Regions from separate parts of the Homo sapiens genome. Here region 1 is linked to region 2. The links come from fine-mapping of genetic effects on gene expression. A gene starts in region 2. The other region holds a variant in brackets. All regions are shown on one strand. Distances are from middle to middle.

Region 1 (5,376 bases), 48 kb after region 2:
TTCCCCAATTTTTTCTCGTAGTAGTTTCATAGTTTGAGATCTTAGATTTAAGTGTTTATTGTGATTTGATTTTTGTATACAGCAAGAGATAGGGTCTAATTTTATTCTTCTGCATATGGATATCCAGTTTTCCCAGGACCATTTTTATTGAAGAGACTGTCTTTTCCCCAGTGTATGTTCTTGACACCTTTGTCAAAAATGAATTCACTGTAGGTGTGTGTGTATAGATTTGTTTCTGGGTTCTCTATTCTGTTCCTTTAGTCTGTGTGTCTGTTTTTATGCCAGTACCATGCAGTTTTGGTTACTATAGCTCTGTAGTATAATTTGAAGTAAAGTAATGTGATTCCTCTAGTTTTATTCTTTTTGCTTAGGGTAGCTTTGGCTACTCTGAGTCTTTCGTGATTCCATATAAATTTTAGGGGGCTAGGCACGGTGGCTCACGCCTGTAATCCTAGTACTTTGGGAGGCCGAGGCGGGCGGATCTCGAGTTCAGGAGATCGACCATCCTGGCTAACACGGTGAAACCTCGTCTCTACTAAAAATACAAAAAATTAGCCGGGCATGGTGGTGGGCACCCGTAGTCCCAGCTACTTGGGAGGCTGAGGCAGGAGAATGGCATGAATCCAGTAGGCGGAGCTTGCAGTGAGCCAAGATCACGCCACTGCACTCCAGCCTGGGTGACAGAGCGAGACTTTGTCTCAAAAAAAAAAAAAAAATAATTAGGATTGTTTTTCTATTTCTGTGAAGATTGTCATTGGTATTTTCATAGAGATTGCATTGAATCTGTAGATTGCTTTGGGTGATTTGGGAAAAATATTCCATGGTCATGGATTAGAAGAATTCATGAACAATAACAATCAATATTGTTATTGGTTCTTCTTATCCATGACCATGGAATCTTTTTTCCATTTTTTGGTGTCCTCTTTCATCAGTGTTTTATAGTTTTCATTATAGAGACCGTTCACTTCTTTGTTTAATTCCTAGGTATTTAATTTTATGTGTGACTATCGGAAATTTGATTTTTTTAAAATTTCCTTTTCACGTTGTTCTCCGTTGGCATATGAAAATACATTCTAATTTTGTATTTTAATGAAGTGCTTTGAATTTTTCACTCATTTCCACCTTAAAAGTAATTGCGCTTTTCTATTACTAATTTTTTCCTAATTTAAATTTTATCAGTGGGCTTAACTCTGAAAGTATTGCTGACTAACTTTCATGTTGTTTTTAGTAAAAGCTTTGATTGATCAAGAAGTGAAGAATGGCATTCCTTCTAACAGAATTATTTTGGGAGGGTTTTCTCAGGTAAGATAAAATTTGAGTGGAATGTCAGTACCATCAGTATACTTATTTAGAAGTCTGTGCATTAATCCTTTCTATAGAGTAGTCTTTTTTGATGTTATAGAATCTTGACTGATACACTTACCTTTGATGTTTAATTAAGTTTCAGTGTACTGGAACTAATTAATTTCTTCTTGAAAGAACTATAATACACATGTACACATGTAATTAAATTTCTAAGTTAACACAGTTTATCCTTTTAATTAATTAAAACTGATAACACAGGCATGAGTCCCCTCTATAGGAGGAGACTACTGATAGGAACAGTAAAGTGGAAGACAAGAGAATTTCTTCCCTTTACCTTCACGTATTACAGGTTTTAGGTATGAATATGTGGTGTTTATTTTTGGCATTTTTCTTTGTCTCTGTACTTTTTCCCCTGCTTTCTGTACTCCCTCCACAGACGTAGCTTCCTCATACGGACCTTTCTTTCATGGCTACTGCGGCATATAAGCTGTTTGCCATGGAACCAGTCCCCAGATGCTCTAACTTATCATCTGTAAATCTTCTAAGTTAGCAACTTAGTGTTTGGATTACCTTAATTAGGGAGATGTTTGGATTACCTTAATTAGGGAGATGTCAGAATTCTGAAATTATTTAGAAGATAGAATTCAGTAGAAAGATTTGTTGATACAATATAGTGAAAAGGTGTTACTGATTTGGTGTTTGTTGAAATTCACAGATAATGTATATTGTAATACACATTGTGACATAAACATAGGGACAGAAATTAATGATCCAGGCCAGGCACGGTGGCTCACGCCTGTAATCCCAGCACTTTGGGAGGCCAAGGTGGGTGGATCACTTGAGGTCAGGAGTTCGAGACCAGCCCAGCCAACATGGTGAAACCCTGTCTCTACTAAAAATACAAAAATTAGCCGGGCATAGTGGTGCACGCCTCTGTAACTCCAGCTACTCCGGAGGCTGAAGCAGGAAAATCACTTGAACCCAGGAGCCAGAGGTTGCAGTGAGCCAAGATCGCACCACTATACTCCAGCCTGGGCAACAGAGCTGAGACTCTGTCTCAAAAATAATAATAATAATGATCCAGAATAACAAGTTCATGTGGGAGTCTGTATATTTGATATTCATTCATTACAGTATATAGAAACCAACTCAATACCTCAAGCAAGGAGTAAGCAATGAGTCTGTGGCATCCTATCAAGGAAACTGAGGAGGAAAATGAGGCAAGGCCTCAGGAAGTAGCTAGAAATTGAAAAGCAGTTGGGCCTTGCTCACCATCTCTCATCTCTTGTTTCTTTGCTTGTCTGTTTCATTTACCTTTCCATAAACAATTGGCCATCTTGGCTTTTGCAGCCTATAGCTTTTCCAGCTCTTGAATTTACATGTTACAGGTGTAGCCACACAGAGAGTGACTGGTGGTCATCGAATCCCATTTCCACAGTGCCAGGAGAAAACATCACTGCCTGGGATGTGAAAGGCTCTCGTGTACTCATGTGTTGCAGTAACCCATGGGCATGGTCAGAGTGATGGGGCTTCTGGATGCTGG[C/G]AGGAGTACAGCTTCCAGAATGTGGGATGTTGTGAGCTGGGTAGGCAGATACTCTGAAGGTGTCTGCTAAATAGTTATTATTATCTTAAATTCTCATTTAGAAAGTAATACCAATTTAAGGGCCAGGCACGGTGGCTCACACCTGTAATCCCAACACTTTGGGAGGCTGAGGCGCGTGGATCACCTGAGGTCGGGAGTTTGAGACCAGCCTAACCAACATGGAGAAACCCCGTCTCTACCAAAAATACAAAATTAGCCGGGTGTGGTGGTGCATGCCTGTAATCCCAGCTACTCGGGAGGCTGAGGCAGGAGAATCGCTTGAACTCAGGAGGCGGAGGTTGTGGTGAGCCAAGATTGCACCATTACTCTCCAGCCTGGGCAACAAGAGTGAAACTCCATCTCAAAAAAAAAAAAAAAAGTAATACCAATTTAAGAGCAGATTGGATTTTATGCCTAAAATTCTGCAAAGGAGAAAATATAAATTCAGAATATTCGTAAGGCATGTTGTAAGTGCAGCAGTTTCCCATGGTACAAACTATGTCTCGTCGGAAAGGAAGTCTGTATGTTCTCTGGTGTAGAGAACCGCATCCTTTAGGACACGGTGGGGTGTGTTTGTATTTCCGATATTTGCCTGATTTGATTTGACACCAGCCACCAAGTTTGATTTTTTTATGGATATCATTAGTAACAAGATATTCCCTAAATTGCTGTGGGCAAGCATGTGTGTTCCATTGACTTTCCCTGCTTGTCTTTTCAGGGAGGAGCTTTATCTTTATATACTGCCCTTACCACACAGCAGAAACTGGCAGGTGTCACTGCACTCAGTTGCTGGCTTCCACTTCGGGCTTCCTTTCCACAGGTAACTTGGTTGATGCACTCAACATGAGATTACTGAGCTAAAGGTAGCTAGTAGATATTGTTGGAGATAAAGTCATCTTATTTTTTTTTATTAATAAACTTTATTTTTTGGAGAAGTTCTAAATTCACAGCAAAACTGAGCAGAAGGTACAGAGTTACTATCTACCTCCTGTCCCCACACATGCACAGCCTCCCCACCATCAGCATCCCCACCTCCACAGCCATGTTTTTGCTGCAGTCAGTAATGCTGCACTGACACATCACCATCACCAAGTCCTCCACTTACAGCACTCATCCTTTTTTAAAAATAATTTTCTTAGACTTTTGTGATGTATTACTAGGCCTTATTTCTGTACGCTATACTGTCTGTATTGTGGAGTACATAGAATGGAATTAGAAAGAAACCTTATTGTCACAAATCTTATATTAGAAGGATTTGATACATTTTAGGATATATATGAAAATTAGGACTTTTTTTAACATATAGAAATCATACTTATTTTTAGACCAGGTGCGGTGGCTCATGCCTGTAATCCCAGCACTTTGGGAGGCTGAGGCGGGTGGATTACCTCAGGTCAGGAGTTCAAGACCAGCCTGGCCAACATGGTGAAACCCCATGGCTACTAAAAATACAGAAATTAGCTGGGCGTCGTGGTGCACACCTATAATCCCAGCTACTCAGGAGGCTGAGGCATGAGAATCACTTGAACCCAGGAGGTGGAAGTTGCAGTGAGCCACGATTGTGCCACTTCACTCCAGCCTGGGTAACAGAGCAAGACTCTGTCTTTGGGGGAAAAAAAAAAAAAAAGATAGCTGAATAAAACAGCAACTCAAAATACTAAAACAACCAACCAAACAAACAAAAAAAAGCTGAAAATATAAAGATGGATTAAAATATAATCTGCTTGGCTGGGTGCAGTGGCTCACGCCTGTAATCCCAGCACTTTCGGAGGCCAAGGCAGGTGGATCACAAGGTCAGGAGATTGAGACCATCCTGGGTAACACAGTGAAACCCTGTCTCTACTAAAAAATACAAAAAAATTAGCTGGGCGTGGTGGCACGTGCCTGTAATCCCAGCTACTTGGGAGGCTGAGGCAGGAGAATTGCTTGAACCTGGGAGGCAGAGGTTGCAGTGAGCTGAGATCACGCCACTGCACTCCAGCCTGGGCAACAGAGCAAGACTCCGTCTCAAAAAAACTAAACGAAACAAAAAAATGTATATATAATCTGCTTCAAGGAACTCATTCACTGGGAAGATATATATTATAATATGAGGCAAGGTGATCATACATCCTATAGAAGTCAAAGGGATGTGGTGAGTATATGGATGAAGGAATTTTATTTTTTTGGCCAAATGTAACTTCTAATATGTTATATATATGCATATTTATGTACAATTTTAAATGCCTGGCATAGTGTCCTATACTTTTACAAAAATAAAACTATTTCTTCTTTTGCTTTTTGCAGGGTCCTATCGGTGGTGCTAATAGAGATATTTCTATTCTCCAGTGCCACGGGGATTGTGACCCTTTGGTTCCCCTGATGTTTGGTTCTCTTACGGTGGAAAAACTAAAAACATTGGTGAATCCAGCCAATGTGACCTTTAAAACCTATGAAGGTATGATGCACAGTTCGTGTCAACAGGTAGGTGTCTAGAAGCAGTGATCAGC
Region 2 (5,376 bases):
CACAGAGTGGCTCCCACAGTGCAGCGGCGGGCCGAAGGGCTCCTCAAGTGTGGCCAGAGCAGACACCGAGGCCGAGGAGGTGCTGAGAATGAGCGAGGACTGCTAGCGCGTTGTTATCTCTCAATGAGAGTGCAGTAGTGAGGATGACCAGAGTTCACTCTCATTGCCATCTTAGTTTTGGTGGGTTTTGGCCGGCTTCTTTACTGCATCCTGTTTTATCAGCAAGATCTTTATAAGCTATATTTTGCGCTGACGTTCTATCTCATCCTGTGACTTAGAATGCCTTAACCGTCTGGGAATGCAGCCCAATAGGTTTCAGCCTTACTTTACTCAGCCCCTATTTAAGATGGAGTTGCTCTGGTTCACACGCCTCTGACACTGGTTACCGTGTGAAAGAAATGGAGTGTTGTTTTTTTTACAGCTTTCTTCCGAACCTTACTCTCTAAGGATGGTATCCAGTATGTCCTTTTTTTTTTCAGATGGAGTCCTGCTCTGTTGCCCAGGCTGGAGTGCAGTGGTACTATCTTGGCTCACTGCAAGCTCCGCCTCCTGGGTTCATGCCATTCTCCTGCCTTAGCCTCCCGAGTAGCTGGGACTACAGGCAACCACCACCACACCCAGCTAATTTTTTTTTTTTTTTGTATTGTTAGTAGAGACGGGTTTTCACCGTGTGAGCCAGGATGGTCTCAATCTCCTGACCTCGTGATCCGCCCACCTCGGCCTCCCAAAGTGCTGGGATTACAGGTTTGAGCCACTGCGCCCGGCCTCCAGTATGTCCTTCACTGAATTGTAAACTTCTGAAGGTCAGGGCATTTTGGCTTTAAGTGTTTCTATCTTGTGCTCTCTTCCAGATCTTACCATGTAGTTGATATGCAACACATTTGTTGAGTAACTACATTTTAGGCCATAAAGGCACCTGTGCAGAAAAGGGCAGTCTAGTCTCATGCTTATGTGTCCAGAGTTGGTTCCTTCCGGTGGGTTCATGGTCTCGCTGACTTCAAGAATAAAGCTTGTCACCTTCGTGGTGAGTGTTACAGTTTTTTTTTTTTTTTTTTTTTTTTTTTGAGACAAGGTCTCTCTCTGTCTCCCAGGCTGGAGTGCAGTGACGCGATCTCAGGTCACTACAAGCTCTGCCTCTCAGGTTCACGCCATTCCCCTGCCTCAGCCTCCCAAGTAGCTTGGACTACACGACCGGCCAATTTTTTTTTTTTGTATTTTTAGTAGAGACGAGGTCTCACCGTGTTAAGGCAGGATGGTCTCGATCACCTGACCTCCTGATCCACCCGCCTCGGCCTCCCAAAGTGCTGGGAGTGTTACAGCTCTTAAAGGTCCCACAGACCCAAAGAGTGAGCAGCAGCAGCAAGATTTATTGTGAAGAGTGAAAGAACAAACTTTCCACAGTGTGGAAGGGGACCCAGGGCTGCCACTGCCAGCTAGGGGATGGGGGGCGTGGCCAGCTTTTATTTCCTTATTTGTCCCGGCCCAAGTCCTGCGGATTGGTCCACTTTACAGAACACTGATTAGCCCGTTTTACAGGGTACTGATTGGTGCATTTTACAAACCTCTAGCTAGCCACAAAGTGCTGATTGGTGCATTTTACAATCCTAGCTACAGAGTGCTGTTGGTACATTTTACAATCCTCTTGTAAGACAGAAAAGTTCTCCAAGTCCCCAACCGACCCAGAAGACCAGCTGGCTTTACCTCTCACTTAAACCTGTACTGTGTCAATATCCGTACATCAGTAAGTGTTGTCGATCAAGTTAGGGAAGTAGTGGATTTCTGGTGACAAATGTTACCCTTTCCAACTAAAGTTTAAAGAAGGTAAGTTGAACCCAAATCTACATACTGCTGTAGCCCCAAACGGAAATACTGCAAAAGCTCCATCAACGTCTCCCAGTCCATCCAGACTTTTACAAATGGATAGACCCCGGCCGCAGGAAACCAAGGAGCACCTGGGGTTGGGTTGGGTGAATTGGCTCTGGGGCTCATTCTTTTCACTACAGCGCCAGAAAAGCAAAAACCTAAACCAAGACCCAAGAGACCAGCCCTCAGCCTGCACCTGAGAGCACATTTTCCCTAGCCAGCACTGAGCATGCGCAGGCTGCGTGGTGTGGCGAAAGCGCAGCCAGGTCCGCGCTGCCGCCGCAGCCAATCGGAGGGAGGGAGCCGCCCGGACATTGTGAGGTGCCGAGGGAGGGGCGGCGGGCGAGGGGCAGGGCAGGGCGGACCCTGGACGCGCGGGCGCGCGCGGAAGGTAGCGCGGGGCCGCGTTGGCGCGCACGCGCCTGAGCGTGCGCCCGGTGGGGCCGGCCGGGACTCGCCGCTCGCACGCCCTTGGGCCGCGGCCGGGCGCCCGCTCTTCCTTCCGCTTGCGCTGTGAGCTGAGGCGGTGTATGTGCGGCAATAACATGTCAACCCCGCTGCCCGCCATCGTGCCCGCCGCCCGGAAGGCCACCGCTGCGGTGAGTGGCGTAGGCGTGGGCTCGGAGGGGTCCACTGGGCCGGCCACCGGTGGTTGCCCCTCGCGCGGGGTGGGCGTTGCGGGCGCGTGGCGGCCTGCGGACGAGGACGCTCCTCCCGGCCCGGGTGGGGTGCGAATGGTCCGCGCGGCCGGGTCCGCGGGGGGCGGGGGCAGCCGGGGGGTCACAGCCGGCGCGAGGGCCAGTCCCCAGCTCCTCCCTGCATTGCGGAGGAAGTGTGGCCCCGGGACCCCCGCGGGCCGGCCTAGGGCACGGCGTCAGCCTCTGCAGCGTGTTTCTGCCTGGTGTGTGGGTGAGGGAAACCTAAGTCCGCCAGGAAATCGCCTTATTGTCACCTCGCACTCTTATCCTCAATGAAAGAAGTTTGAAGATTGAGTGTCCTACAAGGTCAGACGTACTGTTTTTTAGAAAACTCGTGTATGAAAAGTCAAACTTATTTTTGCCTCCGGAAGCTTGCTTTTGCAGTGGAAAAATTCTACAGGATATGTGAGATGTTCCTGATTTCACTTGAAAGAGATAAACTGTTTTTCTTAGAATGTGATCATTTGCACTCAATGTCTAACTGGGACCTCTCAGTGCTACCCCCCCCCCATTCATTATCTCAGGAAATAAAGGGAGAAGTTGATCAGAATTTTTGCCATTTAAAAGAGGTCGATAAAGATTAAGTCGCCGAAGATAGTGTTGTGTAATTCTCTCGTAGGTTTCGTTCCGTTTTCCACCTTAAGCAAAGCTAGTGTGTAACAATCCTGTGTGGGCTTATTTAGGCATTGCTTATTAATTTTCCTCTTCTCTTATAGGTGATTTTCCTGCATGGATTGGGAGATACTGGGTAGGTACCATTATTATTAATAGTAACAGTAATGAAACTGGGTCATGCAACTTTTGTTTACGCGTTCAAAGGTTTAATGTTTAAGGGCGCTAAAATGGTATTTTAAGATTGCCAGTTAATGTATCTTACAGTGCGGTGATTTTATGTTTTGAAAACCCTCAGAATTTTCCCCTTATCATCGTGAGTTTATTGATTTTTTAACTCTGGTTTCTGGAACATATTAAAATTTCAAATTCCTCATTAGTTGCTTTGGGTATTGGATACCAGAGATCCGTGGAATGTTAGTAGGGACGGTGTGCAATTGAGAGCTTTCCAGAGCAGTTAAAATTTCAGAGCAGATTGAAGAGAAGAACTAGTTGATTTTGATAAGAGAACTAGTGGCAACATAAGGCATGCAGCATTCTGAATAGAGGGATTAGATGTTCACTCTAATGAGTTGAAAGGCAGGGGAGGCAACTCAAAGATTTATTTGGAGGCTTATCAAACAATTTGTTGTACTAACTACTTATTTTTATTTTATTTTTTGTTTGTTTGCTTTTTTCTTTTGTTATTATTTTTAGAGACAAGGGCTCTCTCTGTCGCCCAGGCTGGAGTGCAGTTGCAGGATCTTAGCTCACTGCAGCTTTGAACTCCTGGGCTCAAGTGATCCTTCAGCCTCAGCCTCTCAAAGCACAGAGATTAGAGGTGGGAGCTGCCTGAGCCTGGCCTTTTGTACTAACTTTAGATACATGATTTATCTTTTACTCAAGCTTTTTCTATATTGAGATGTTTTTGTTTTTATATTTAAATTGGTGATAATCTGTGAAACTTAAGCAAAATATGAATGTTGTTGAAAAATTGCAGAAATAGAGGAAAACTGAAGATAAATAAATTTTGATAAAGTAGCCCCAGAACGACTAAATTTTCTTTAAAATGAACCATTGGGGCCGGGCGCGGTGGCTCACACCTGTAATCCCAGCACTTTGGGAGGCCGAGGTGGGTAGTTCACTTGATGTCAAGAGTTCGACACCAGCTTGGCCAATATGGTGAAACCCCATCTCTACTAAAAATATAAAAATTACCCGGGTGTGGTGGTGCATGCCTGTAATCCCAGCTGCTAGGGAGGCTGAGAGAAGAGAATCACTTGAACCTGGGAGGCAGAGGCTTCAGTGAGCCAAGATTGCACGACTGCACTCCAGCCTGGGCCACAGAGTGAGACTCAAAAAAAAAAAAAATGCCATTAGGCTAGATTTTTGTTTGTTTGTTTGGAGACAGGGTCTGCTGTGTTGCCCTGGCTGGAGGGCAGTGGCGTGATCTTGACTCACTGCAACCTCCACCTTCTGGGTTCCTGGGTCTCCCGAGTAGCTGGGACTACAGTTGCTTGCCACCATGCCAGCTAATTTTTGTATTTTTAGTAGAGACAGAGTTTTGCCATGTTGGTTACGCTGGTCTCGAACTCCTGACCTCAAATGATCCACCCACCTGAGCCTCCCAAAGTGCTGGGATTACAGGCGTGAGCCACCACTTAAAAGTGATTCCTATTTTTTGCCTAATAAGTCGAGTTATGTAATACAAACTTTGTATGGAGTTACAGAAAAGGTTGCAGCACTCTTTCTGGCAATCCAGTGGTCCTGTGAAAATGATGAACTTATTTTACCAAATGAAACTCGAATAGCAGAATCTCTATTTTATGGCCAAACCTTTCTTGATGTTGCAAGTCAGGGAGAAGGTTGCTATCCTCTAACTTTGCCAATAATGAGCACTTCTATGCCTGAATGATTAGTTCAAGCAAAAAAAAAAAAACTTCAGTCTAGGCAGATTCCACAGACTGAAGCTAAAAGTAAAAATGGTGAAGACTATTAGGATCAAAAATACCAAGAACATCCATTACATCTTGACCAAAAGTTAAGTTTATATTAAAAAAGTATCCTTCTTTTTAACCTGTTGTGATAAAAGAAAAAACAAAGGTCTCCAGTTCTGAAATTATTTGGTGGGATAATGCTAAGGAAAGGCTGACTCTAGATTGGTTCCATGAGTGCATGATGAAACTTCGAACCTGTCAGCCTGACAAGTGGCAATTTAATACTT

Evidence for each region. PIP is the estimated chance that this variant, and not a neighbour inherited with it, causes the effect. A credible set is the group of variants that fine-mapping cannot tell apart.
Region 1: its variant is the best candidate, but not a certain one, in a credible set for the expression of LYPLA1 in blood mononuclear cells (TOPMed, PIP 0.80).

What each region holds. Positions count from the first base shown.
Region 1 is chr8:54,050,986-54,056,361 of GRCh38, reverse strand. LYPLA1-TCEA1 (LYPLA1-TCEA1 readthrough) reads left to right here. Exons shown (of 21, transcript NM_001425842.1): 6 at 1,229-1,302; 7 at 3,606-3,707; 8 at 5,174-5,350. It overlaps LYPLA1 (lysophospholipase 1), which reads left to right. Exons shown (of 9, transcript NM_006330.4): 6 at 1,229-1,302; 7 at 3,606-3,707; 8 at 5,174-5,350. Among named protein-coding and RNA genes, the nearest start is that of TCEA1, 31 kb to the right of the region's middle. The variant C/G (reference allele first, on the strand shown) is at 2,849.
Region 2 is chr8:54,098,841-54,104,216 of GRCh38, reverse strand. LYPLA1 (lysophospholipase 1) reads left to right here and starts at 2,270. Exons shown (of 9, transcript NM_006330.4): 1 at 2,270-2,462; 2 at 3,278-3,309. The coding sequence starts at 2,394. LYPLA1-TCEA1 (LYPLA1-TCEA1 readthrough) reads left to right here and starts at 2,270. Exons shown (of 21, transcript NM_001425842.1): 1 at 2,270-2,462; 2 at 3,278-3,309. RefSeq lists a silencer at 2,147-2,716.